Homo sapiens: one gene and its partners. The protein of the gene in region 3 interacts with the protein of the main gene of each other region in a biochemical or structural test. Each region holds a gene or a part of one and is shown on either strand. Other genes may lie near its edges.

The links.
Region 1: the proteins of UBE2N (region 3) and AURKA form a complex in vitro, tested with the Homo sapiens proteins (3 studies listed by BioGRID, with this or other methods).
Region 2: the proteins of UBE2N (region 3) and ZNRF1 form a complex in vitro, tested with the Homo sapiens proteins (3 studies listed by BioGRID, with this or other methods).
Region 4: the proteins of UBE2N (region 3) and TRIM5 form a complex in vitro, tested with the Homo sapiens proteins (2 studies listed by BioGRID, with this or other methods).

What each region holds. Positions count from the first base shown.
Region 1 is NC_000020.11:56,375,210-56,382,240, reverse strand, and holds part of AURKA (aurora kinase A), read left to right. Parts: intron 1-669; coding exon 670-808; intron 809-7,031. UniProt on the Homo sapiens protein: Mitotic serine/threonine kinase that contributes to the regulation of cell cycle progression.
Region 2 is NC_000016.10:74,994,750-75,002,042, forward strand, and holds the start of ZNRF1 (E3 ubiquitin-protein ligase ZNRF1), read left to right. Parts: upstream 1-4,274; 5' UTR 4,275-4,922; coding exon 4,923-5,346; intron 5,347-7,293. UniProt on the Homo sapiens protein: E3 ubiquitin-protein ligase that plays a role in different processes including cell differentiation, receptor recycling or regulation of inflammation. Mediates the ubiquitination of AKT1 and GLUL, thereby playing a role in neuron cells differentiation.
Region 3 is NC_000012.12:93,431,942-93,438,972, forward strand, and holds part of UBE2N (ubiquitin-conjugating enzyme E2 N), read right to left. Parts: intron 1-7,031. UniProt on the Homo sapiens protein: The UBE2V1-UBE2N and UBE2V2-UBE2N heterodimers catalyze the synthesis of non-canonical 'Lys-63'-linked polyubiquitin chains. This type of polyubiquitination does not lead to protein degradation by the proteasome.
Region 4 is NC_000011.10:5,662,687-5,668,097, reverse strand, and holds the end of TRIM5 (tripartite motif-containing protein 5), read left to right. Parts: coding exon of another isoform or gene 1-199; exon of another isoform or gene 200-380; intron 381-386; coding exon 387-409; intron 410-2,016; coding exon 2,017-2,117; intron 2,118-2,415; coding exon 2,416-2,442; coding exon of another isoform or gene 2,443-2,591; exon of another isoform or gene 2,592-2,702; coding exon 2,703-3,289; 3' UTR 3,290-3,924; coding exon of another isoform or gene 3,925-4,063; 3' UTR 4,064-4,903; downstream 4,904-5,411.

The DNA of each region.
Region 1 (7,031 bases), on a different chromosome or scaffold from region 3:
CTTTTATCTGTCACAGTGTCTGGGTGTCAAACTACTGTGGCAATGCCATGTCCTTTTTTTTTTTCCTTTTTTTTTTTGAGATGGAGTCTCGCTCTGTTGCCCAGACTGGAGTGCAGTGGCGCAATCTCAGCTCACTGCAACCTCTGCCTCCCAGGTTAAAGCGATTCTCCTGCCTCAGCCTCCTGAGTAGCTAGGATTGCAGGCATGCACCAACAAGCCTAGCTAATTTTTGTATTTTTAGTAGAGACGAGGTTTCACCATGTTGGCCAGGCTGGTCTTGAACTCCTGACCTCGCGATCCTCCCGCCTCGGCCTCCCAAAGTGCTGGGATTACAGGCGTGAGCCACTGTGCCCGGCCATGTCCTTTTTTTAATATGTAGATAATTAATATTCAGCTGAATTTTCCTCCTAAGAATAAAGGTGCCTAAAGGAAGGAAATAGTCTTAACTAAACCAGAGGTCCATTAATACTGTGAAGTGCTTTTAAAATGATATGTGGGTGTATGTATTTTTCTTGGAGTGGGTTTATAGTTTCAGATTCTAAAGTGGGGTTTGGAGTGTGGTTTCATGTGAAACACCACTGGTTTTACATGAAGAGTTTGTTTGACATTTTGTACATAGTCTTCTGTGAGCTCCAAACCAAGTGTTAGAATGTTTATCCTTTGTTGCAGGCATCCTAATATTCTTAGACTGTATGGTTATTTCCATGATGCTACCAGAGTCTACCTAATTCTGGAATATGCACCACTTGGAACAGTTTATAGAGAACTTCAGAAACTTTCAAAGTTTGATGAGCAGAGAACTGCTACTGTAAGTGTTCATTTATTGTCCAGGCTAATTGTGTTTCCTTTATACCTGTCCTCCATAGCAATGTACCTTTCATCATAGTAGAGTGGGTTTTGTCTTGACGTAAGGATAGCTTAATATCAAATATTTGAAGTGGAAAAATCAAAATAGCTTAGTTGTACCATATGTACAGATAAAGTCTAGAACCAGGTAGAATGTTGTATCTGCTTTTGTGCCTAGTTTGCACAGCTGTTTTCTATGGAAATGTATATAATGTATATAGATAGTCACCCTCATTTTCTTTAATAGATGTTTTATTTTAGAATAATTTTTATTTTATTTTATTTTTTTTAAAGGGACAGGGTCTTGTTATGTTGCCCAGGCTGGACTCAAGTGATTCTCCACCTCAGCCTCCCGAGTAGCTGGGACTACAGGTGCACACCATTGTACCTGGCTAGGATAGTTTTAGATTTACAGAAATTGTGAAGGCAGTACAGAGAGTTCCCATATACCCCACACTGAATTTCCTACTAATTCTCCTACTAACATCTTGCATTAATATGGCACATTTGTCACATTCAATGAACCAATATTGATATATAACTATTAACTCAAGTCCACATTTTATTCAGATTTTCTTAGTTTTTCTCATGATTAAATTGGGCTTATGGGTTTTTGAGAGGGAGATCAGAGGTAAAGTGCATTCTTATCACATACCAGGGATGTAAACTCTTATGACTTTTAACTGTGGATGTCAGCTTGATCTTCTGACTCAGAGAGTGTTTGTCTGGTTTCTCCACTGTAAAGTTACTATTTTTTCCCCTTTCCGTGCTGTATTTCTTCAAAGGAAGTTACTATGAATAGCCCACACTTAAGGAGTAGAGAGTGGATGGAGTATTGCCATAAATTATCTGGAATTCTGTGCCAGAGATAAGGCTGTTCTCCCTTATTTATTTAATCATTTATTTATTTAAAGATGTAGACTCCTGGGTATTTATTTTATCTCTTGAGCTATAATGCAATACTTTATTTTGTGGTTCAGATCATTGCAACTTTGGCCACTGGGAACTTTTTTTCTTTCTTTTTTTTTTTTTTTCTTTTTGAGACGGAGTCTCACTCTGTCGCCCAGGCTGGAGTGCAGTGGCGCTATCTTGGCTCACTGCAACCTCAGCCTCCCAGGTTGAAGCGATTCTTCTGCCTCAGCCTCCCAAGTAGCTGGAAGTACAGGCACCCACCACCACACCTGGCTAATTTTTGTATTTTTAGTAGAGACGGGGTTTCACCATATTGGCCAGGCTGGTCTTGAACTCCTGACCTTGTGATCCACCCACCTCAGCCTCCCAAAGTGCTGGGATTACAGGCATGAGCCACCGTGCCCGGCCTGCTCTTTTTGTTTTACCAGGTTCCTGGGAAAATCATTGCAGTTTTGTCTTGCGTGTGTGTGGTTTTTTTTTGGTTTGTTTTTACACTTCCTTTTTTTTTTTTTCTTTTTTTGAGATGGAATCTCACTCTGTCGCCCAGGCTGGAGTGCAGTGGCATAATCTTGGCTCACTGCAGCCTTCACCTCCTGGGTTCAAGCGATTCTCCTGCCTCAGCCTCCTGAGTAGCTAGGATTAACAGGCATGCACCACCACACCCGGCTCATTTTTGTATTTTTAGTAGAGATGGGGTTTTGCCATGTTGGCCAGGCTGGTCTCTAACCCCTGACCTCAGGTAATCTGCCCGCCTCAGCCTCCCAAAGTGCTAGGATTACAGGTGTGAGCCACCACGCCTGGCCTTGTACTTCCTTACTTTCTGATACAAGATGCTCAGGCCTCATCGTGTATATTTCCTGCTCCAGTCCTAGAATCGAACCACTTCTCCAAGGAGCCCTGTTTCCTTTTCTTGGAGAATGTTATTAGAAACCAAGCTCTGGGCACTTGGTGTACTCATTGCTACTATGGTGTCACTACTTTTAGGCTTTCAGCTGACACAGCAAGGGAATATATGTGGATAGTAATCTGTGTATAGATTTATCCATCTATCTCTTCATTAAGCATACCATGAATTCATACTGATGTCTTCAACTTGAATCCATTACCACGTTTCATTCTAACTTCCTCCTGTTTACCTGTAAACTCCCACTCCAAAAGTGTGAAACCTGGATTTCACCGCCCACCATCCTTTTACTTATTCAATTCCAATATACATGTATAATGGTATCAGAATTGTTAACCAGCTGCCACGTGGGAACCAACTTTATCAATTAGAGTGCTTATGTGCACTTCCTTTGGCCTTTGTCTTATAGATTCCACTCATTTCCAAAGCTGCTTGGATCAACACTTTACCCTCATGCCCTTTAGTAAGGTGGTTTCCTACATTTGTAATGCAATGAGATTTTTTTGTCACAATCTGCATGCCCAGGATGGAATCATTTACATTTTCATATCCTGAGATTGATTTTTGTGTGTTTGCTGTAAAGTTCTATGAATTTCGACAAATACACAATGCCATGTATCCACCATTATGATATAGAGAATAGTTTCGCTGCTCTTAAGAAAAAAAAAATCCTGTGTCTCAACTACTCATCCCTTCCAACCCTTCCATCTCTGGCAACCACTGATCTGTTTACTGTCTCTATTGCCTTTTCCAGAATATCATGTAATTGGAATCATAACAGTATGTAGCTTTTTTAGGTGGGCTTCTTCCACTTAGCAATATGCATTGAAGATTCATCTGTGTATTTTTGGAGGCATGAGAGCTTGTTCATTTCTGTTTATCACAAAATCATATTCCATTATTTCATTATATGGAAGTACCTCAGTTTATTCGTCTACTGAAGGGTATCTTGGCTGCTTCTGGTTTTTGGCAGTTATCATGTTTTGGCTGTCAACATTTGCATGCAGGTTTTTGCGAAACAAGTCTTCAAATTAGTTGGGCACATATATAGGAGTGCTATTGCCAGCTCATACGGTAAGACTATATTTTGCTTTGTGAGGAACTGTCAGTCTTCCAAAGTGATTTTTACATTATATTTTACATTGCATTACAAATGTAGGAAATCACCTTACTAAAGGGCATGAGGGTAAAGTGTTGATCCAAGCAGCTTTGGAGATGAGTGGAGTCTATAAGACAAAGGCCAAAGGAAGTGCACATAAGCACTCTAATTGATAAAGTTGGTTTCCGTGGGGCAGCTGGTTAACAATTCTGATACCATTATACAACGGTAATGTGGTATCGGAACCAATGAATTGAGGTCCTCTTGCTTCTCATAGTTGCCAACATTTGATGTCAGTGTTTTGGATTTTTGTTTGTTTGTTTTGAGACAAGGTCTCACTGTCGCCCAGACTGGAGTGCAATGGCATGATCACCCACCTCAAACTCCCTGGCTCAAGCAATCCTCCCATCTCAGCCTCCCAAGTAGCTAGGACTACAGGCATGTGCTCTCGTGCCTGGCTAATTTTTGTATTTTTTTGTAGAGACAAGGTTTTGCCTTGTTGCCCAGGTCGGTTTCGAAATCCTGGTCTCAAGTAATTCATGCCTCCCAAAATATTGGGATTACAGGAGTGAGCCACTATACCTGGCCTCTTGTTTTGCATTTTAGTTATTCTAATCGGCATGTGGTGGTATCTCATTGTTTTGATTTCTAGTTTCCTAATGACATTTGATGTTGAACGTCTCTTTTTTTTTTTGAGACGGAGTCTCGCTCTGTCACCAGGCTAGAGTGTAGTGGTGCGATTTTGGCTCACTGCAACCTCCGCCTCTTGGGTTCAAGCGATTCTCCTGCCTCAGACTCCTGAGTAGCTGGGACTACAGGCACGTGCCACCATGCCCAGCTAATTTTTGTACTTTTAGTAGAGATGGGGTTTCGCCATGTTGGCCAGGATGGTCTTGATCTCTTGACCTTGTGATCCACCTGCCTCGGCCTCCCAAAGTGCTGGGATTATAGGCGTGAGCCACTGCGCCCGGCCTTGAACATCTTTTTATGTGTTTATTTGCCATCTGTGTATCGTCTTTGAGGCACCTGTTGAAATCTTTTGCTCTTTTTTTTTTTGAGTTTTGAGTTTTAAGAGTTCTTTGTATATTTTGGATGCAGGTCATCTGTCACACATGTTTTGCAAATATTTTCTCCCAATCCGTGCCTTGTATTTTTGTTCTCTTATCTGTGTCTTTCACAAGGCTGTTTTTTATTTATTTTTTTGAGAAAGGGTTTCACTCTGTCAGCCAGGCTGGGGTGCAGTGGTGCGATCTCTGCTCACTGCAGCCTCTGCCTGTTGAGCTCAAGTGATCCTCCTGAGTAGGTGAGACTACAGGTGGGTACCACCACGCCCAGCTAATTTTTGTATTTTTTGTATAGACACGGTCTCATCATGTTGCCCAGGTTGTTTTTTTTGAGGCATTCTTGCTTTGTCACCCAGGCTGGAGGGCAGTGACGTGATCTTGGTTCTCAGCTCACTGCAACTTCTACCTCCTGTGTTCAAGCAGTTCTCCTGCCTCAGCCTCCTGAGTAGCTGGGATTACAGGCATGAGCCACCACGCCCAGCTAATTTTTGTATTTTTAGTAGAGACAGGGTTTCATCATGTTGGCCAGTCTGGTCTTGAACTCCTGACCTCAGGTGATTTGCCCACCTCGGCCTCCCAGAGTGTTGGGATTGCAGGCATGAGCCACTGTACCCGGCCTCCCAGGCTGTATTTTTAATAAAAGTCCAAATGTGTCAGTTTTTTCTTTCATGATTGTGCTTTTTTGCTTCTCCTTTTTTATGTGATTAAAATTACTTGTTTTAAGAAGTTGAAGAGTCTTAGTTTGGGCCGTTTCTTATTGGATTGGCAGCTTGATAAAGCATGTTGAATGGTGGTTACTTTGATTTTTTTCTGTTTCTTGGTGGAGATCTCCGGGTAGTGTGGACATTAGTTCTCTTTTTGGCATTGATGTAAATGGCATTTAAATTCAAGTAATTTTACTTTCAGTATCTGATGAAATCATGCTACTATGGACAAATGGCTCTTTGGTCTTGTCTCTGCAACAATGACATGCTGTTTTAAAGACTTAATCTTAAATGTTTGTGCTTCTCCTAAGTAGAAATAGATCTCTAATTTGCTTTTTTAAATATTAGCTAAACAAATCAGCTTCTTATTTAATTGGCAATTAATATTTCTTTGAGTTCATCTTTTGGGCCAACTTTCTCTTACAGATCAATAAGTAAATCTATGCTCATTAATGGTAGTGACTCTACCTCAGGTACTCACATTTTACCCTTGGTTTTTTTCCTGGTAATCTTGCTTATGGTGGGTTGTAGTTTGTTGTTTCAGGTCAGTTAATCTTTTTCTTCAGTTTCTGATATTGATATCCTACTTTAAAAGATTCACCTTATACCAACACTACAAAATTACACATTATACTACTTCTCTGTTTTCTCTCCTTACACCCAAGGCTTCAATCTAGATGGAGTTTTGGTGTAAGCAGATAGCTGTTTGAAAGAAAATGAAAGATCATTTCTGTCTAGATTCCTTAGCAGTTAGAATGAATACACATGTACCTGTTTTCCTTTTCAGATGAATTCAAATAAAACTAATTGTAGTGACATGTCAGTGACCTATCCATATCTGCAATCTAACAACATGTGAGGTGTGGAGGAAGTGGCAGTGCCAGAGGGCTATCATGAAACTAATAGCTTCTTGTCTGGAAGTGATTTGAGGAGTGAAATCCATTGCCCTCTCAAACTTTAATGTGTGCAATTAAAGCATCAGCAACTCAAAGTTGGTGGTCAGAAGAGCAGCTTTCTTTGTATTTGCCTTCAGTTTATTGTGGTCTGAATTTTGATCTCCGGTTTTGGGCTGAAAGAATGAAAAGTGTTTATTCTGACAGTGACATTTGGTTTTTACTCATCTGTTTAGTAAACCTTTTTGATGTAAAATAATGTTCAATCCTGTCTAGAAATTGCTGTAGAAAGCAAACTCTTCTCAAACTTTAGGCAGAGCTAAATATATTTTTTCAATATTCAAACAGTTATCTGTATGTTAAAATAAATTCTGGGCCAGGCATGGTAGCTCACGCTTGTAATCTCAGCACTTGGAGAGGCCAAGGTGGGAGGATCACTTGAGGTCAGGAATTAGCGACCAGCGTAGGCAACATGGGGAGACTGTCTCTACAAAAAAAAAAAAAAAAAAAAGAAAGATTAAAAATTAGCTGGGCATGGTGGCACACACCTGTAGTCCCAGCTACTCGGAAGGAGGCTGAGGTGGGAGGATTGCTTACGGCCAGGAGTTC
Region 2 (7,293 bases), on a different chromosome or scaffold from region 3:
TCCATTCAATTACCAAAAAATGTGATTTAAAAAAACAAGGCCAGGTGTGGTGGCTCATGGCTGTAATCCCAGCACTTTGAGAGGCCAAGGCGGGTGGATCGCTTGAGGCCAGGAGTTCAAGACCAGCCTGGCCAACATAGTGAAACCTCATCTCTACAAAAAAGAAAAAAAAAAATTAGCTAGGCATGGTGGCACATACCTGTAATCCCAGCTACTCAGGAGGCTGAGGCGTGAGAATTGTTTGAACCCGGAGGCAGAGGTTGCAGTGAGCTGAGATCATACCACTGCACTCCAGCCTGGGTGACAGAGTGAGACTCTGTCTCTAAATAAGTAAATGCATAAAACAGAAAGACACCACTTTGTAACCACACAATTAAAAAATAATAAATAACAAATAAATACATAACAGAAAGAGGCTAGGTGCAGTGGCTCAAGCCTGTAATCCCAGCCACTCTGGGAGGCTGAGGCAGGTGGATCATCTGAGGTCAGGAGTTCAAGACCAGCCTGGCCAACATGGTGAAACCCCGTCTCTACTAAAAATACAAAAATTAGCTGGTTATGATGCCACGTGCCTGTTATCCGAGCTACTAGGGAGGCTGAGGCAGGAGAATCACTTGAACCCATGAGGTAGAGGTTGCAGTGAGCCAAGTTCATGCCAATGCACTCCAGCCTGGGCGACAGAGCAAGACTTGTCTCAAAAAATAATTAGTGGCCAGGCACAGTGGCTCATGCCTGTAATCCCAGCACTTTGGGAGGCCAAGGCGGATGAATCACGAGGTCAGGAATTTGATACAAGCCTGACCAAACATGGTGAAACCCCATCTCTACTAAAAATACAAAAATTAGCCGGGTGTGGTGGCGCGCGCCTGTAATCCCAACTACTCAGGAGGCTGAGGCTGGAGAATCGCTTGAACCCGGGAGGCGGAGGTTGCAGTGAAGATTGCACCACTGCACTCCAGCCTGGGTGAGAACAGATCAAGACACCGTCTTAAAAAAAAAAAAAATTTAGCGTGGCATGGTGGCGCATGCCTGTAATCCCAGCTACTTGGGAGGCTGAGGCAGAAGAATCACTTGAACCTGGGAGGTGGAGGTAGGGGTTGCAGTGAGCCGAGATCATGCCACTGTGCCCCAGCTTGGGTAACAGAGCAAGACTCCGTCTCAAAAAAAAAAAAAAGGAAAAAAAGAAAAAATAGAAAGAGACCTATTATTAGTCATTTTCCATTCTCCCCTCCCCCCAGGCCATGGCAACCACTAATCAATCTGTCTCAATGGATTTGCCTATTCTGGACATTTCATATAAGTGAAATCATACAATACATAGTCTTTTATGGCTGGCTTCTTTTAGTTAATATGCTTTTACAAGATTCATCCATGTTGTAATATGAATCAGTACTTTATTCCTTTTCATGGCTGAATAATATTTCATTGTATAGATACACCACATTTGGTTTACCTCTTCATCAGTTGATGAGCATTTGGGTTGTTTCCACTTTTTAGCTCTTTTGAATAATGCTGCTATGAACATTTACGTACACATTTTTCTGCAGACATATGTTTTGCTTTCTCTTGGAACTCTACCTAGGTAGGAGCAGAATTGCTGGGTCATGTAACTCCACATTTAATCTTTTTGAGGAACTGTCAGGCTGTTTTCCAAAGCAGCTGCACCATTTTACATTTCCACCAGCAAGGTACAAGGGTTCCAATTTCTCCACCTCTCATCAATACTTACTATTGCCCTTCTCTTTGATCATAGCCATTCAAGTGGGTGGGAAGTGTTTCTTCTGATGTTCTATGAGAACAGGGACTCCATCTGTCTGGTTCTGGTTCAGTACTGTATCCCAGAACCTACTACAGTGCCTGGAATTTATTACATACTAAATATTGTGTTAAATACACTAAAAAACTGTTCAGTGAATGGATAAATCAAAAGCTGTTTGGATAGTTACAATGGGTATCATGTATTTATCTCTCTAATAGGGATCTTCCACGGGGTCTAATACCTTTTTTTTTTTTAGTATAGTACTGAACCACTCTTCTGATACCATAGTCTTTCTTCTAGGAGGAAATGGGATTAAATTTAAGCTTTCTTGTTTTTCCTCTTTAGGTATACACATACTCATATAGGCACCTACAGATAATTTATTAGATGTTGGCACATTTTGTTTCTTCCTATTTTTACTTCTCTTGCAAAAATTCTTACTTCTACAGGGCTGTTTGCTCACCTCCAGGTATTTCATGCTTGCAAATAGGTTTCCTCCTGTTTCCAGGCTGGCCACAATGGAACAATCAATACCTGTGACGGGCTAGCCTTGCTCTTTTTGGTTTTCTTTTAATATTTCTGAACATCCTGTTTTGGTCCCCCAGTTTAGAAGTATCTGGGGTCATTTAATAGGTGGAAGTCAGCTAAGCCAGGGACTGTGTGATACTCACAGCCAGCACCTAGCACTTGATAAATAGTTGTTCAGCAGTCACAGTGGCTCATGATGTAATCCCAGCACTTTGTGAAGCCGAAGTGGGAGGACTGCTTGAGGCCAGGAGTACCGGCCTGGACAACATGGGGAAACTCCCATCTCTACTATATATGTATGTATATACACATATATATATATCATATGTATATTTTGAGACAGTCTCGTTCTGTTGCCCAGTCTGGAGTGCAGTGACGCGATCTCAGCCCATTGCAACCTCTGTCTCGCGGGTTCAAGCCATTCTCCTGCCTCAGCTACCCAAGTAGCTGGGATCACAGGCGTGAGCTACCACACCTGGCTAATTTATTTATTTTTTATTTTCATTTTTTTTTAGTAGAAATGAGGTTTCACCATGTTGGTCAGGCTGGTTGCAAACTCCTAACCTCAGGTGATCCCCTGCCCCATCTCCCCCCACCCCCCCACCCCCAGCCTCCCACAGTGCTGGAATTACAAGCATGAGCCACCGTGCCCGGCCTGATTTTGAAATTTTTAACAGACTTTTACTCGGGAGGCTGAGGCAGAAGAATCACTTGAACCTGGAAGGCGGAGGTTGTCCAGCCTGGGAGGAGCAAGGCTCCGTCTCAAAAAAAAAAAAAAAGAAAAGAAAAAAAAGAAAAAGAAAAACAGGGCGGGCGCGGTGGCTCATGCCTGTAATCCTAACACTTTGGGAGGCCAAGGCAGGTGGATTACCTGAGGTCAGGAGTTCAAGACCAGCCTGGCCAATACGGTGAAACCCCGCCTCTACTAAAAATACAAAAAATTAGCCAGGTGCAGTGTGGCATGTGCCTGTAATCCCAGCTACTCGGGAGGCTGAGGCAGGAGAATCACTTGAATCCGGGAGGCGGAGGTTGCGGTGAGCCGAGGTTACGCCACACCACTCCAGCCTGGGTGACAGGGCGAGATTACGTCTCAAAAACAAAAACAAAACAAAACAAAAAAAACAGTTGTTCAATAAATGAATGTGAATATAGGAGAAAGACGGCTTGAGGTAGCAAAGGAACACTCCCTTGCAAATGATTCAGGCTTGGTCAACAATACACCTATTGAGTACCCACCGTGTCCTTGGCCCGTGGTGAGGGCCGAAACACAGCACATGGTAAACAAAACAGGGCTCCAGCCTTGGACAGAAGGTTTCTATAATCACTTCTAGCTGCGTTGTTCTATTTCCATACCCATATCTATTCACTTTTTATGGTACATCTATTGATTCTGAAAATTACATTTTAGCTAAGGAATCTACTCATTTGCTTAAGCCCAAAATAGGAAGTTATGATCTAGTGTCAGCAAAACGCCGGATTCACAAGTGTCCCCATGGCGCTGTTTACCCCCAAATAACTAAACCCCGCCAAATGTTGAGATTCCGGACGTGAGGGGTGCTTGGATGGGGAACCCCCGAAAGAATGGACATCACGTCCACCAGAGGGTGCTGTGGGGGCAAATTTGTGCCAGGAGGGGAGCTCGACCGGTGACCCTCAGAGCCAGGTAGGCGTAAGGAGTAAATCTCCTTCTTCCCGGTGTTTCCTTCCCACCCCCTCGAACCATTGCTGCCCCTCCCCCATACTTGGTTCCCCCTGAATAATTTGCCACTTTCGGGGACTTAAGAAGTGTTTGCTTTTGAAAGACATCTGGTTTCTGTGGCTAACGCCCAGTGGTCAGGCCGCCCAGGTCACAGGCCGGCCGGGGGCGGGCGGTGGGTGGGGACTGCTGGGGCGTCAGCGGCCCAGGCGCCGCAGGGACCGCGAAAGGGTTAACCCGGCGGGGGGAGGGGGAGGGGGCGCGGGCCGCGCCTGCGCTCTGCCGCCCTCCATTGTCTCCACGGCGGCGAGGAGCGCCGGCGAGCGCAGCCCGGGACCGAGCGGGGCGGCGCGGCTGGCGGGGCCGGCGGCGGCTGAAGCGAGAGCGCGACGCGACGCGACCGCGGCTTCCCGAGCTGCGCCTGGCCGCCCAGCGCCGCGGCCCGCCCGAGGCCTGGAGGGGTCCGGGCCGCCGTCCATGGTCGCGGCGTCCTGAGGCGGGGGACGCGCCCGGCGCCCCCGGCCCTCCTCCGCCTCCTCCCGCGGGGCGGGCGGCCTCCTCCGGCGCCTCCCCGCGCCCGCCCGCCGCTCGCCGCCGCCTCCCTCCCTCCTTCCCTGCGGCTCCCCCGGCTTTCGGAGCCCGGGGGCGGCCTGTGGCGCGCGGAGCCCGCGCCGGACTGCGCCTCTTTGGACCTTGAGGGGAAACATGCGTTTGCCTTGGATCGTTTGAAATTCTGAGTTTGGGATCCCCGCCCGCCCGCCTGCCTCTTCCGCCCCGCGGGTTTTTTCCTTTTTTCCTTTTGCTTTTTTTCCTTTTCTCCCTCCGGGTCTCCTTTTTGACTCCCTCCCCCTTTATGCTCGCCCAGCCCTCCCCCTGCTGCTGAGAAGTGGGGGAGGGTCTCGGCCTCCAGGTTCCCGCCCCACCGGGGCCCGGGCGAGCATGGGGGGCAAGCAGAGCACGGCGGCCCGCTCCCGGGGCCCCTTCCCGGGGGTCTCCACCGATGACAGCGCCGTGCCGCCGCCGGGAGGGGCGCCCCATTTCGGGCACTACCGGACGGGCGGCGGGGCCATGGGGCTGCGCAGCCGCTCGGTCAGCTCGGTGGCAGGCATGGGCATGGACCCCAGCACGGCCGGGGGGGTGCCCTTTGGCCTCTACACCCCCGCCTCCCGGGGCACCGGCGACTCCGAGAGGGCGCCCGGCGGCGGAGGGTCTGCGTCCGACTCCACCTATGCCCATGGCAATGGTTACCAGGAGACGGGCGGCGGTCACCATAGAGACGGGATGCTGTACCTGGGCTCCCGAGCCTCGCTGGCGGATGCTCTACCTCTGCACATCGCACCCAGGTGGTTCAGCTCGCATAGTGGTGAGTCCGCGGGTGGTGGAGGCCTCGGAGGGAGGGCGCGCCGGGGCGCCCCAAGCCTTCGCGTGCGTGCCAAGGTTTGGGAATGTAGTGCACGACCGGGATCTGTCTGCATTCCCTTTGGTTCCCGATGCCAAGGGATAAATGGGATACCTACCGTCTGGAAACTAGGCTTTCTGCGAGGCTGCGGAGCCTGGCGATTTAGGGACTCACGGCGTGTGTTCACTTGTGGAAGGGCAGAGCGAAGCCTACCTATTGGAGTTCCATTTATTGGCATCACCCTCCTCAGAGAAGAGGTCGTGTCTGGCTGAGAGCAAGTCAGCCTGGGTACTTCCATTCTGCCACTGCAGCACTGTGCCTGCCTCACCGGTAACGGAGAGATGGAGCCAGTTGGAGCAAGCAGTGTCTCCTAAACAGAGTGTGTGAAAATGAAATAAAATCAGGGGCAAGTGATGCCTGGATTAGGGCTCTCACTCTTGCTGGGAGAGAGAGGTGCCCAGTTTTGCCACCCTGCTGGAGATCTGTTTGAAATGTTTAAAATGGAGCAGCCGGCAGGCGGCTGGCATAGACAGGTGTGGCTGCTGTACGGAGGGCCCAGCCGGCGAGTCTCGCGGGGGCTTTGCAGGACCCGGGCTGTGGTCACCCGTACTGCATGCAGCAGGCTTGGCTCCGCGACTCTCGCCTCCCTCCATCTTTTTTTCTTCTGCTCCATGCTAAGTGCTTGGTCTTCCCGTGAATCTGCATCTTTTTGTAACAGGGAGCCTGTCACGGTGGGGCATTATTGCCTGGCTGTTGGCACATGACTGGGGAAAAGGAGGATTCAGAGAATCTGGATGAATTCATTTTATGAACTTCTGGTGACAGGCCAGCAAAAGGTTGGAGGGGGATTTCCCAGGCTCCTAGCGGGAGGGCAAAAAAGGCCTGGCAGGAGGAAAACAGGTCTGTCTGCTAGGTCAGGCATCTAGAAAATTGGCCAAAAGGGATGTGGGGGCCGCTATTTGCTAATTGGCAAGTTGAGTGATGAAGTTACATCTTAAGATTCTTTTGGGTGAGTTGGGAAAATTTAGATAGTGTAGGGGAAAGATTGCTCCTGCCTTTAGGGTACTTTATGGAGGGTAATATCTGTTGGATCACTCTTTTAACTACTGTGAAATAGGGTTGACTTTTGGGGTATCTCTTTCCCCCCCCCTGCAAATAGCCTGGGGTTTGTTTTCATTTGGTTTGGTTTTTTGTCAATTCTGTAAACTTTAATTTGTGAAATAGTGTTGGGGGAGAAACGATTAGTGACTAATTTAGGGTAACACTTAGAAGTAGCTTGTGAATTGTTAGGATGATATTTTAATCTCTGACAGACCTCCGGATATCATTGGAGCTTTTCTGACCTCATGGAACTCTGCCCTGAGTGAGAAGCAGGACATGATTGCCTTTGGCTCTTTCAGGCATTTGATCAAAATTAGGCATTTTGAAATTAATAATTTTTCCTATGGAATTTAGTCCAGAGAGTTAGCCATATTTTTGAGATGACTAGTTTGGTGTTTAAAAGAACTGTAATGAGCATCTGGTTTTGAACTTAAAAGTACTGTAAGAAGTTTCTCTAAAATCACAGAATTTTTTGTGTTGAAAAACATATGAGATATGTAGGGAGGAAGAAAGGGAGTGCTTTTTTTGCTAAAATTTCTTAAGCCTCTTACTAAAAATTTATTTATTATGCTACTACCAGGTTCCATGCTACAGTTATGAGCTTGTAGTTGGATTCCAGAATTTCACTCTTAAGCTGTGAAACCTTATTTTTTTTCATCCGATCATGGTGAGGGTAGGGAGAGCCACTGAACTGTGGGGACAGGAAGGTTGGAGCATATTAATCCTTTAGGGAAGGGTGTCAAAAGTGTGTATGGGAGGCTGCTATTAATATTGTAGGTAATCCATTCCTTACTGTGTAGGACCATCATG
Region 3 (7,031 bases):
ACACTTCCTCGGCTGGGCGCGGTGGCTCCTGCCTGTAATCCCAGCACTCTGGGAGGCTGAGGCGGGCGGATCACGAGGTCAGGAGTTTGAGACCAGCCTGACCAACATGGTGAAACCCTGTCTCTACTAAAAATACCAAAATTAGCCGGGTGTGGTGGCGTGCACCTGTAATCCCAGCTACTCAGGAGGCTGAGGCAGGAGAATTGCTTGAACCCGGGAGGCAGAGGTTGCAGTGAGCCAAGTCACGTCACTGCATTCCAGCCTGGGCCACAGAAATTTGTTTCATGACTGTGTTTTCCATTACACAGGGATGCCTTTCTTGTTCACCTGGCTTACTGGTAAATGCATATTATGCATTCAATGAATGTCCAATTAATTGAACTGAAAAAAAATCTCATGAATGGATAATAAAGAGACACGCAAATCACAAGGTTACAGAAAACTGAAATTTGGCCTTGGGATCGGCCTATGTTACTAAAACCACTTTGTCCCTGCCTCATAGTAAGATGGTAATCTAGTTGTCTTTAAGAGTCACAAAAAAAAAAAAACAAAACAAAACAGCTACTTACTAACATTTTCCCGAGTATAAGCTATAATCTTAAGAAAGTTACAGAGCAATAAAAAAATCACCAATGGTTTCATGATATAAATTTGTTAGTTCTTTCTAGTGTTTCCTTAACTACAATGCCTTCAATCCCTAGAACTGTAAAGACTTTCAAAATATAAATTCATTTGCCCAAAATTAACCAAACTGACAGAGACATAATGTGAAGGTATTGAAAACTAAAAAAAAAATTGAAAATCTAAAGACAACATAGCCAGTTGTTTTAATGCAAAATATGTCAACCTTAGATTCTGAAACCAGTATCTAAAATTACTTTAAATTACAGTAGAATCCTAATTATTCAGAAGCATCTCAGTTACTGGCCAATTCAAAACCAAAAATGTCTGTGCCTAAGTACTCAAGAAATTTTAGAATAGCTTCATTCAGGTTTTTTTTTTTTTTTGAGACGGAGTCTTGCTCTGTTGCCCAGGCTGGAGTGCAGTGGGGTGATCTCCGCTCACTGCAAGCTCTGCTGCTCCCGGGTTCACACCATTCTCCTGCCTCAGCCTCCCGACTAGCTGGGACTACAGGCACCCACCACCACGCCCAGCTAATTTTTTTGTATTTTTAGTAGAGACGGGGTTTCACCATGTTAGCCAGGATGGTCTCGATCTCCTGACCTTGTGATCCTCCTGCCTCGGCCTCCCAAAGTGCTGGGATTACAGGCGTGAGCCACCGCGCCTGGCCAGGATTTTTAAAAAATATAAAATGCCCCCAATGGTGTCATGTAGCCCTTGAAAGAATGAATAATAATGAAGTATTTCTGTTGATTCTGAGGGCTCTTAACCAATTATCCAGTTCTTCCAACCACACAGTCATGTTTCTGCCACAAAAGACCCTAGGGCCATCAATCACTTCACTTGGGAAGAAATTTTAAAAGCTGCTAAGATTTTAGCTGAAGTTAAAAGATTCCCTATTATTTAATTGCCTAATTGGTATATCCACATTCATTCCTTCATATATTACATTTGCAAAGAAAATTTCAACTCTAATGAAACAACAGTCCAACTCGTTTTTCGCATACACACATAAGAATTCTTTTCCTTGATATAATATTATTACATAAACTATGCCTCTCATATTTATTTTGTTTTTAGAAAGCAGCACTGTATAAGATACGAATTTGGCACCTAAATCAGAACTCTGATTACTATAATTGTAATGTCAAAAGCCCCTGCTGGATGCTGCTGTCCTCATTTCCTTGTTTCTAGTATTTATTTCTATAGCACATATGCATCCATAGTTCATTATAACAGAAAACATAATGTGTGTTCAGAATCCATACAACTTGAATCTGTAGCATATTTTCTTCTTAAATCCATTTACACAGGTAAACTATCCTATAAGGTATAGGGAAAAAAGAAGAAGAACCGAATTGTACATCAGGAATCTGGTCATCCAACTTCTTTGGCCTACAAATTCCTCACCAGAGAAAGAAAAGGATAGAACAGATGTTCTCTAATGTGTAAAACTCTGGTGGCTCACTCCCGTAGTCCCAGCACTTTAGGAGGCCGAGGTGGGTGGATCACGAGGTCAGGAGATTGAAACCATCCTGGCCAACATGGTGAAACCCGTCTCTACTAAAAATAAAAAAAAATTAGCTGGGTGTGGTGGCGCGTGCCTGTAATTCCAGCTACTCGGGAGGCTGAGGCAGGAGAATCGCTTGAACCTGGGAGGTGGAGATTGCAGTTAGCCGAGTTCGTGCCACTGCACTCCAGCCTGGCGACAGAGCGAGACTCCGTCTCAACAAAAAAAAACTCTGGTTTTAAGAGTGGTCATTAACACGTGTGGAAAAAATTCCAAACTTGAGCAAAGCAAATGCATAACATTTCCAGTCACAGTCATTTAGCACAGTGAATACTAAAGTACTTGATAATTTGACAAAACTTAATTTCACTTGTGCAGGAGTTGATCAATCTGGACTAAAGGAACTGCTTGACACAGAGGAGCTTAAAAAAGAATACTGAACTGACTGCTATTTTTAACTTACTTTCAGTTATGCTCACATTTCATAATCAAAACATTAGATAGTATATTAAAACAGTATCTTTAGAGCCTGAAAGTTTAATCACTATCAAAAGCAGTTCAAGGATTCTTAACATGGAGCACATGGAGACCTAGGGAATCCACAAATAAACTTGGCAAGAATCTGAATCCCCAGAAGTCATACGTTAAAAAAAATAGCTTTTTTTCCTAGGAAGAGGTCAGAAAATTCTTAAGTGAGACAACTGAAAGAACTAAAGAACCACTGTTCCTAGTCAAATTTTTTACAAGTTTTTTCTTAAATTCCAAAGGTGATTTTAATTACAACTTATAACAAATCTGTCTTCATCATAATGAGTTTGTATTTATTTATTTATTTATTTATTTATTTAAGAGACAGGGTCTTGCCTCTATTACCCAGGCTGGGGTGCAGTGGTGCCACTAATAGCTCACTGCAGCCCCGGCCTCCTGGATTCAAGGGATCTTCCTGCCTCAGTCTTCTGTTAGGATTACTGCATGAACCACCATACCTGGCTAAGTTTCCCTGCCCCCACCTGGAGGTACATATATTTCTGAAACATCATGGTAACTTTTCCATGCCTTTTTTTAATTGGAAGAAAACATTATCAGACAAGTATTTTCAGAGCTTAAAACAACAGATAGGACAGGCGCGGTGACTCACACCTGTAGTTCCAGCACTTTGGGAGGCCGAGGTGGGCAGATCACCAAAGGTCAGGAGTTCGAGACCAGCCTGACCAACATGGTGAAACCCTGCCTCTACTAAAAATACAAAAATCAGCTGGGCGTGGTGGCATACACCTGTAATCCCAGCTACTAGGGAGGCTGAGGCAGGAGAATTGCTTGAACCCAGGGGGCAGAGGTTGCAGTTAGCCGAGATCACGCCATTGCACTCCAGCCTGGGCAACAAAAGCAAAACTTCATCTCAAAATAAGAAAAAAAAAATGTTCAAGGCAGAGAGTAAAGCTACTCCAGTGGCTGAGGCAGGAGAACTGCTTGAACCTGGGAGGCAGAGGTTGTAGTAAGCCGAGATTGTGCCATTGCACTCCAGGCTGGGCAACAAAGCAAGACTCCCGTCTCAAATAAATAAAAGGTGAGTTTTCTAAATCACTTTTCTTACAAAAAAAAATACCTTATGCACTAGAATACCTATCAAATGAGTGGCTTTTAAACAGTAACAGGAAAAAATGTGTGTACTTCAAAAAATCCTATTAAAAAAGTAAACTCAAGTCTCAATGTAAAATCAGACTGTATCTGATTTTTAAGAATTTGAGGCTAAATCACACCAAATAGAAGAGTAAATTTTTCCACTGCACTTCAGCCTGGGTGACAGAGACCCTGTTTCAAAAAATTAATTAAATGTATTTTCTTAAGTAAATTTTTAAGCACCATAGACAAGGGACCAGTGGGGAAGGGAGACATAAAGTAAATTCTGCGAAAGACTGGTAAAATTCTAATTCCAGCAGGTTGACTCACTAGGTTTTAATCAAATAAGTCAACCCCTAGGGTAAGTTAACTACTTTTTCCCAAGACTGTATTTTATCATTTTCATTATTATCATTATTACTATTTTGAGACAGGGTTTCACTCTGTCGCCCAGGCTGGAGTGCAGTGGCGCGATCTAGGCTCACTGCAGCCTCAACTTCCTGGGCCAAACCAATCCTCCCACCTGTCTCCTGAGTAGCTGGGACTACAGATGTGTGCCACAACACCTGGCTAATTTTCATTTTATCTTTTTGTAGAGACAAGGTCTCATTATGTTGTACAGCCCAGTCTTGAAACCTTGGGCTCAGGGGATCCTCCCGCCTCAGCCTCCCAAAGTACTGAGATTATAGGCATGAGCCACAGTGCTCAGCCCTCATGATTAATTCTGAAAAGACCATTAAAGGAATGTCAGTCACTGTATCAACGTAACATGTAAAGCTGAAACAGATTTGGTTTTGACCAAGGCCATAACTATAGATCTCACTTATCGGTTCCCGAAAGTGATTCTCCTTTATGACAGGATTATGCAGAACCTCTCATTTGAGGGACATTTTAGGTACCTCCTAACCTTTATGACTTTAAGCTTTAACTGCTCACTTTTTTTTTTTTGGTGGAGATGGAGATCTCACTATGTTCCTCAGGCTGGTCTCAACTCCTGGCTTCAAGCAATCCTTGGGCCTCAGTCTCCCAAAGAGCTGTTATTACAGGTGTGAACCACCATGCCCAGCTTCAGTCACTTTTATTGGCTAAAAGAGCTTTGGTCCAGAAGATAAGGCAGAAAAACGAAACTAAAGATTCTAGCTTAAAACAGAACTACTAAGACTCAATATCACTCACACTTGTGCAAAATGCCATACATACAAAACTTCGTTACAGCATTTTTTATATAGCACAATTTAGGAAACATTCTGAAAGTTATGAATAAGCAATTAGTTACAATAAAGTCTAGGCCAGGCACGGTGGTTCATGCCTGTTAACCCTAGCACTTTGGGAGGCCGAGGTGGAAGAATCACTTGAGCCTAGGAGCTCGAGAACAGCCTAGGCAACATGGCAAGACCCCATCTCTACTGAAAAAGTATTAAATTTCCAATATTTGAAAAAATAAAATAAAGTCTAACCATAAGGTTCCATTAAACAGCCCTTTGAGAAAAAAAAAAGAGCCAAAGCAGAACACTATGATGCATGTCTGTAATCCCAGATACTGGAGGCTGAAGGTAGAGATCACCTGATATTAGGAATTCGAGGCTGTATGTATATAGTGTACTATGATCACGCCTGTGAAAAGCCACTGCACTCCAGCCTGGGCAACAAAGCAGCAGTCTGTCTCTTAAAAAAAAAAAAAAGTCAACTTGAAGATACATAGGTGGTTAGAGGGGAAGAGAAGGGAATCAAGGTATTTGCATGAGAAGGAGAAGACGCCTAACTTATAGCAGAAAGTTGCTCTGGTCTTCTTGTAAGGATACACAATAAAAATAGTGGTTGAAGTCGGGTGCAGTGGCTCACACCTGTAATCCTAGCACTTTGGGAGGCTGAGGCAGGTGGATCACTTGAGAAGAGGAGTTTGAGACCAGCATGGCCAACATGGTGAAACCCCATCTCTACTAAAAATTAGCCAGGTGTGGTGGCACATGCCTGCAGTCTCAGCTACTTAAGAGACTGAGGCAGGAGAATCACTTGAACCTGGGAGGTGGAGTTTGCAGTGAGCCAAAATTGCACCACTGCACTCCAGCCTGGGCAACAGGGGGAGACTCCGTCTCAACAAACAAACAAACAAACAAAAACAGTGGTTTTCTAAGCAGGGGAACTGGAATGCTGAAGGACAGATGAGGGATTCTCTACGTATCCTTCAGAGCCTTTCAAATGTGCTCTATGTGTGCATTTCCTAGTTAATAAAAAAAGATACATAAGCAGAGTAGGCACACAAAAAAGAAATAATGTAAAAGATTGATGTCCTTTTTAAGTGAGCTTATGGGTGGAAAACGAGACTAGCTTTAACTTTTAGCTCAGACATTGGTTCAGACAGAATATACCAAGGAGTAACAATGTCAAATTATTGCTCATTGAGATTAAGGCTCATCTATTCAGTTAGTCTATTAATATTTCAGTATCTACTATGTGCCAAGGATTGGTCTAGGCACGAATGAGCAATGCCCGGGATATCCAAGAGTCCCTAACTTCATGAAGGTTTAATGGGGAATAGAGAGAAATAAACAGTAAATAACATAACTTCGAACAGTAATAAGCACTTATACAGAAGAAAGGGAGATAGGAGGATAAAATTGTGGGGGAGGAAAAAGGGAAACTGGTTTATACGGGACAGGTTAGGTAGAGGGTATGACATATGAGCTAAGAACGGAACAACTGGACAAAGCAAGCAATGCAACAAACTGGAGGAAAGTCCTGTGACTGGAATAAGCTCAACCACTTATTGTTCAGGGTACAGCAAAGCAACAGTGTGGCTACAGTGGAGTGACCCAGAGAGAGAAGTGCAGATGCGCTCAGAAGTAGGCATCCCAAATGAATGCAGGGCCTTATAGCTAAGGGGTGGGGGGGAAGGCAAGATTCTAATGTAAGTGTGATGGAGAACCTCTACAGTTTTTAGCAGGGGAGTAACATGGTCTATATTTTAAGAAGATAACACTAGCTGCTGCTCCAAAGTAGGCTAATACAGGAGGCCAGGCAGTAAATGATGGAAGTGAACAGAGGTTTGAAAGACAGGGGGGAAAGTGTCTGATTTAGTACATATATTGAAAGCAGAACCTACAGAATTTGCTACTGGATTAGATACAGGAATCTAAATGAGATAGCAACTGGGTGAATAGTAGTCCAGAAAATCATCTTGTATTTGTAGTTAGTCATTTTACAGTAACAAGAGACAGGGGAATGTTACACTAATCAAGATCCAAATTCTGCCTCTTACCAGCTTTACCTTAGGAAAGTC
Region 4 (5,411 bases), on a different chromosome or scaffold from region 3:
ATGCGGTCATGCTATGTTGCCTAGGCTGTACATCTGTTTAATAAATCAAAGAAGCACTAATTATTTAAATCATTTCATGGAGAGCCATATACGTTTGGAGAAAAACAAATTGTCAGTCACTTCTTTTCCTTCTAAACATGTCCCATCTGCAGAAACCAGGAGCCTCTTCCACAGGGATGAAAGCTATTTCTACTTTTAAGGGAACTTGGAAATCTCACATGAGTCTTCTGGGATGATTGCCTTGAGTCTTATCTTTGCTTTTTTGTCTTTCACACTGTCACCATCTCCATTCTCAGCACATTAGGAACCGGGGGAAATGTGATGAAGCTTTATAAGTGAGGAGAGACTCTTTCTTTCTTAATTGATGTTTTCTCTCTTCTTCCTAGGGTGTGGATGGCGTCATAAAAAGGTATGTGTGGGAGGACAGAGATGGTCCTTTTGTGCAGTGAGGAGAGATTTATAGCCATTAGAATTGTCCTGGGTTTAATTAGAATAAAACATCTCCCAGGGCAGAAAAATTTCGATATTGTTTTATCATAAATTTCTGGTCATAAATCAGCATTCGAATGTTCTATAACTATTAAGAATAGACCAGATTTGGCCAGGTGTGGTGGCTCAAGCCTATAATCCCAGCACTTTGGGACGCCGAGTCAGGAAGATCAGGAGTTTGAGACTAGCCTGGCCAACGTGGCAAAACCCTGTCTCTATCAAAAAAATACAAAAATTAGGGGGGCGTGGTGGCCCGTGCCTGTAATCCCAGCTATTCGGGAGGCTGAGGCAGGAGAATTGCTTGAATCCAGGAGGCAGAGGTTGCAGTGAGCCAAGACCATGCCACTGCACTCCAGTCTGGGCGACAAAGTGAGACTCTGTCTTAGAAAAATCAATAAAATTAAATAAAATTAAAAAAAAGAAAAGGAATAGACCAGATTCTATGGTAGAAAATTTGGGTGGTGGAGACTCGGAGTGTGGGTCAGTAGTGGTTTCAGGGAGAAGGTGTTGCAGTGTTGGACCCCTGCGCCATCACCATTTTATTACCTACATCTAGTTCTCTTTCTGTATTTAATAGGTTCTTGATTTATTTTGGATGGGCCATATCTTCTTTTTCTCTTATATACCCCTAATTGTCCATTGGGACAATTCCCACATGTTTATATTTTCCTCCTGGAAAAAGACCAGTTCCTCTTCATTTATATTTAGATTTCCAAAATCAGATGTTTATTTCCGGAATAATATTTCAAAATAATATTCTGGATAATATGTGGTCATGGTACAAAGAATTGATCCACCTCAGTTGCATTCTTTACAAGAGCATAAAAAGGTGCTATTCTTGTGTCTAAAATCGCACACCTCGCACACCTACGTGGTGGTATCAAGTTCTTTCTAACCACACGATATTCAGGCCAGTAATAGTTTAGTGCACATAATTTCTCATTTGCCAAGTGTTTGTAATTTTTCCCGGAAATCTGAAACCTTAGATGTTATCTGAGTACCTCCCTGCTGGGAATAGCTTTGAAGGTCTTAGGCCTCTCCAAACAGGATTCCTCTCTTGATATGTGTCAAACACCCAGGAGCCAGGTTCTGCAACCTCACTTTCTAACCATCTCCCTGGGAACTCAACATACATAGCGATGATGTTTCCACCCATTAAATGTTAGGGTTTCTTTTGTAAGGCACCAAAGTTTTGTTTTGTTTTGTTTTAAAATCCTTTTTTTTTTTTTTATGTCCTATGAGTTTAAGAATGTAGACAGGGAGAGGTTAATTATTTCATTTTAGAAGGAAGAAACTGTGCTTCTGAGAGGTTAAGATCTTCCCACGTTCTCACAGAAAGTAAGTGGGAAGGCAAACATGAGAACATTTTGTTTGCCTCCAGGGTCAAGAGTTTGCACTCTCCCTTCTCAGGATCCCCAAGAAGAGAGTTCAAGTGCCTCAATGGGTTGAAATGATAGGAAGTCAGGGGTGTTCCACGGACACAAGGTCAAAGGTTTGGAAGTTTTTTTTTTTTTTTTTAATTCTTAGGACGGAGAACGTGACCTTGAAGAAGCCAGAAACTTTTCCAAAAAATCAAAGGAGAGTGTTTCGAGCTCCTGATCTGAAAGGAATGCTAGAAGTGTTTAGAGGTGAGGAGAGCTAGATCAACAACAGGGTTATGGAATTCAAGTGGTGTTAGGGTGCTAAATAGGGAAGAGGGTGCAGTTTCCAAATATGGATAGAGGGGATAGGGGAGGATAGATATTGTCTGCTGCTGATGGGATTATATTTAATGGGAAATGGCTAGGTGGCTGTTTCATCTCATCATTCAGCAATTTACTGCCCTACCATAGGGCATACCTACTCTTTCCCTAATCTGGAGAGAAAATGAATTTCAGTGCTGACTCCTTTGTTTGTATTCAATATTGTGCATTTTTATCATTTCAGAGCTGACAGATGTCCGACGCTACTGGGGTAAGGAGAAGTCACATTATCATAAGCCACCCTGCGGCTTATCATTATTATTATCTTTATCTTTTAGAATTTTATGTTCTCTATTAGGCTCATGTTTTAAGATTTATGATTCTCCTTCCAAGACACACATAACTTACCCCTCCTTATAACTTCTAAACAAGGTTCCTCCCAGTTTTCTCTCAAGTCTTTATCAAGATTTCTCTCATATCACAAATAAAGTTACATTATATCCCTTAGCTGACCTGTTAATTTTTCTACAGTTGATGTGACAGTGGCTCCAAACAACATTTCATGTGCTGTCATTTCTGAAGATAAGAGACAAGTGAGCTCTCCGAAACCACAGATAATATATGGGGCACGAGGGACAAGATACCAGACATTTGTGAATTTCAATTATTGTACTGGCATCCTGGGCTCTCAAAGTATCACATCAGGGAAACATTACTGGGAGGTAGACGTGTCCAAGAAAACTGCTTGGATCCTGGGGGTATGTGCTGGCTTCCAACCTGATGCAATGTGTAATATTGAAAAAAATGAAAATTATCAACCTAAATACGGCTACTGGGTTATAGGGTTAGAGGAAGGAGTTAAATGTAGTGCTTTCCAGGATAGTTCCTTCCATACTCCTTCTGTTCCTTTCATTGTGCCCCTCTCTGTGATTATTTGTCCTGATCGTGTTGGAGTTTTCCTAGACTATGAGGCTTGCACTGTCTCATTCTTCAATATCACAAACCATGGATTTCTCATCTATAAGTTTTCTCACTGTTCTTTTTCTCAGCCTGTATTTCCATATTTAAATCCTAGAAAATGTGGAGTCCCCATGACTCTGTGCTCACCAAGCTCTTGAACCTTCTTACACACTCAGCCCCTTCTGTACAGCACCTCTTGTCCAGGTGCATCTCATACACCTGAACTCATTTGCATCATTTTAACCATCTTTTCCTTGCTGTCTCCCTTCTTTCTATTTGAACGTCCTTCACTCATCAGTAAAATGTAATAATTGCCTTGTGCCATATTGTCCCCAATATTTTATTGACATTTGATAGCAATTTTTTTCATCATTTTCCGTACTCCTAAGGAAAACTGACCTATACCTCATAAAATGAGACCGCTATTTAGGTATTACTTCTGCCAGATATTTATCACCCAATTGCCTCTGACACTGACTAAGAAGATGAAGAAAAGCTTTTCAACAGCCTTTCTATATCATCGTGTGATAATTGTTCACCAATGAATGAGTCCTTAGCCCTGTGTCAGTTTACCCTCGATGCCCTTATTTGTGAGTTAAAGAGAAAATATCATAAATGGTATACTCTTAAGTATAGAGGTTTTGTATCTAGAGGATCTCAGTTCAACTCCTGTCTCTCCATATACCAGCAGTGTAACTGTGAATAACATACTTAAATGGCTGTGCTTATTTCCTTTTCTTTTCTTTTTTCTTTTTTTTTTTTTTTGAGATGAAGTTTTGCTCTTGTTCCCCAGGCTGGAGTGCAATGGCACGATCTCGGTTCACTGCAACCTCCACCTCTCAGATTCAAGCAATTCTCCTGCCTCAGCCTCCCAAGTAGCTGGGATTACAGGTGCCCACCACCACCCCTGGCTAAATTTGTATTTTCAGTAGAGACGGGGTTTCCCCATGTTGGTTAGGCTCGTCTAGAACCTCTGACCTCAGGTGATCCACCCGCCTCGGCCTCCCAAAGTGCTGGGATTACAGGCGTGAGCCACGGCGCCCAGCCTGTGCTTATTTTCTTAAAATAATTTTTGTATTAAAAACTTCACATTAAATAAGTGCTAATGTTTTATTGCATAGTAGGGTGACTAGAGTTAACAATAACCTATTGCATATATTTTGAAATAGCTAGAAGAGAGGATTTTGAAAGTTCTCAACACAAAGAAATGACACATATTTGAGGTGATGGATATGCTAATTACCCTGGTTCGGTTATTACGCAATGTATACATGTATCAAAACATCACACTGTACCACATAAATATGTATATTTATTATTTGTCAATTAAAAGCAAAATAAAACAAAAAACCTTCATCTAATACTTTGGATCATTGTGAAAAAATAAATTCCTGAAGTATAAAGCATCTATCTAAGTGTCTTGATCTAATAAGTACTTGTTCTACAAATTATTGAAAAACATAAACTCTGTTAATGTCTCATGGAACAGGTTGTGCCTTCAGGGAAACTAGGATTGGATTTACTAAATTCTCATTTTTTAGATCTCAGATACTACTGTCAAAATGACTTCAATTCTGCCTTCTATATATAATACACACATATATTTAGGATTTTATTGTAATTCTAGTGTTGCTACATATTAGTCTTTATCAAACAAACTGAATTATGTGGGAATCAGTTTATTAATTGTAAAAAATAATTATAATAAAATTAGCTGATGTAGTTTTTTAAAAGTTAAACGAGTTTTTTGAATAGCTTCACTCATTTCTAGCATGTAAGGGGTAATCCATTATGGTGTTGGGCTTTTTTGTTTGTTTGTTTGTTTGTTTGTTTGTTTGTTTTGAGACAGGGTTTGTCTCTGTCACCCAAGCTGGAGTGCAATGGCACGATCTCGGCTCACTGCAACCTCCATCTCCAGGGTTCATCCTTCCACCTCAGCCTCCTGAGTAGCTGGGACTACAGTCACGCACCACCACGCCCTGGTTATTTTTTGTATTTTTGGTAGAGACAGGGTTTCACTATGTTGCCCAGGCGGATCCCGAAGCCCTGGGCTCAGGCGATCTGCCCACTTTACCTCCCAAAGTGCTAGGATTATAGGTGTGAGCCACCATGCCCGGCCTCATTATGGTGTCTATTAATTTTTGGTTCCCTCTCACTGTGACTGAAAGCAATAATTTTTAACAATATGTAATAGTTCTTTTCAAAATTATCTTTCTCCCTTCGTTTGAAGAAATACAAGAACTAAGTTAAAAATCACAGATTTTTCTTGTAGAAAGTTTT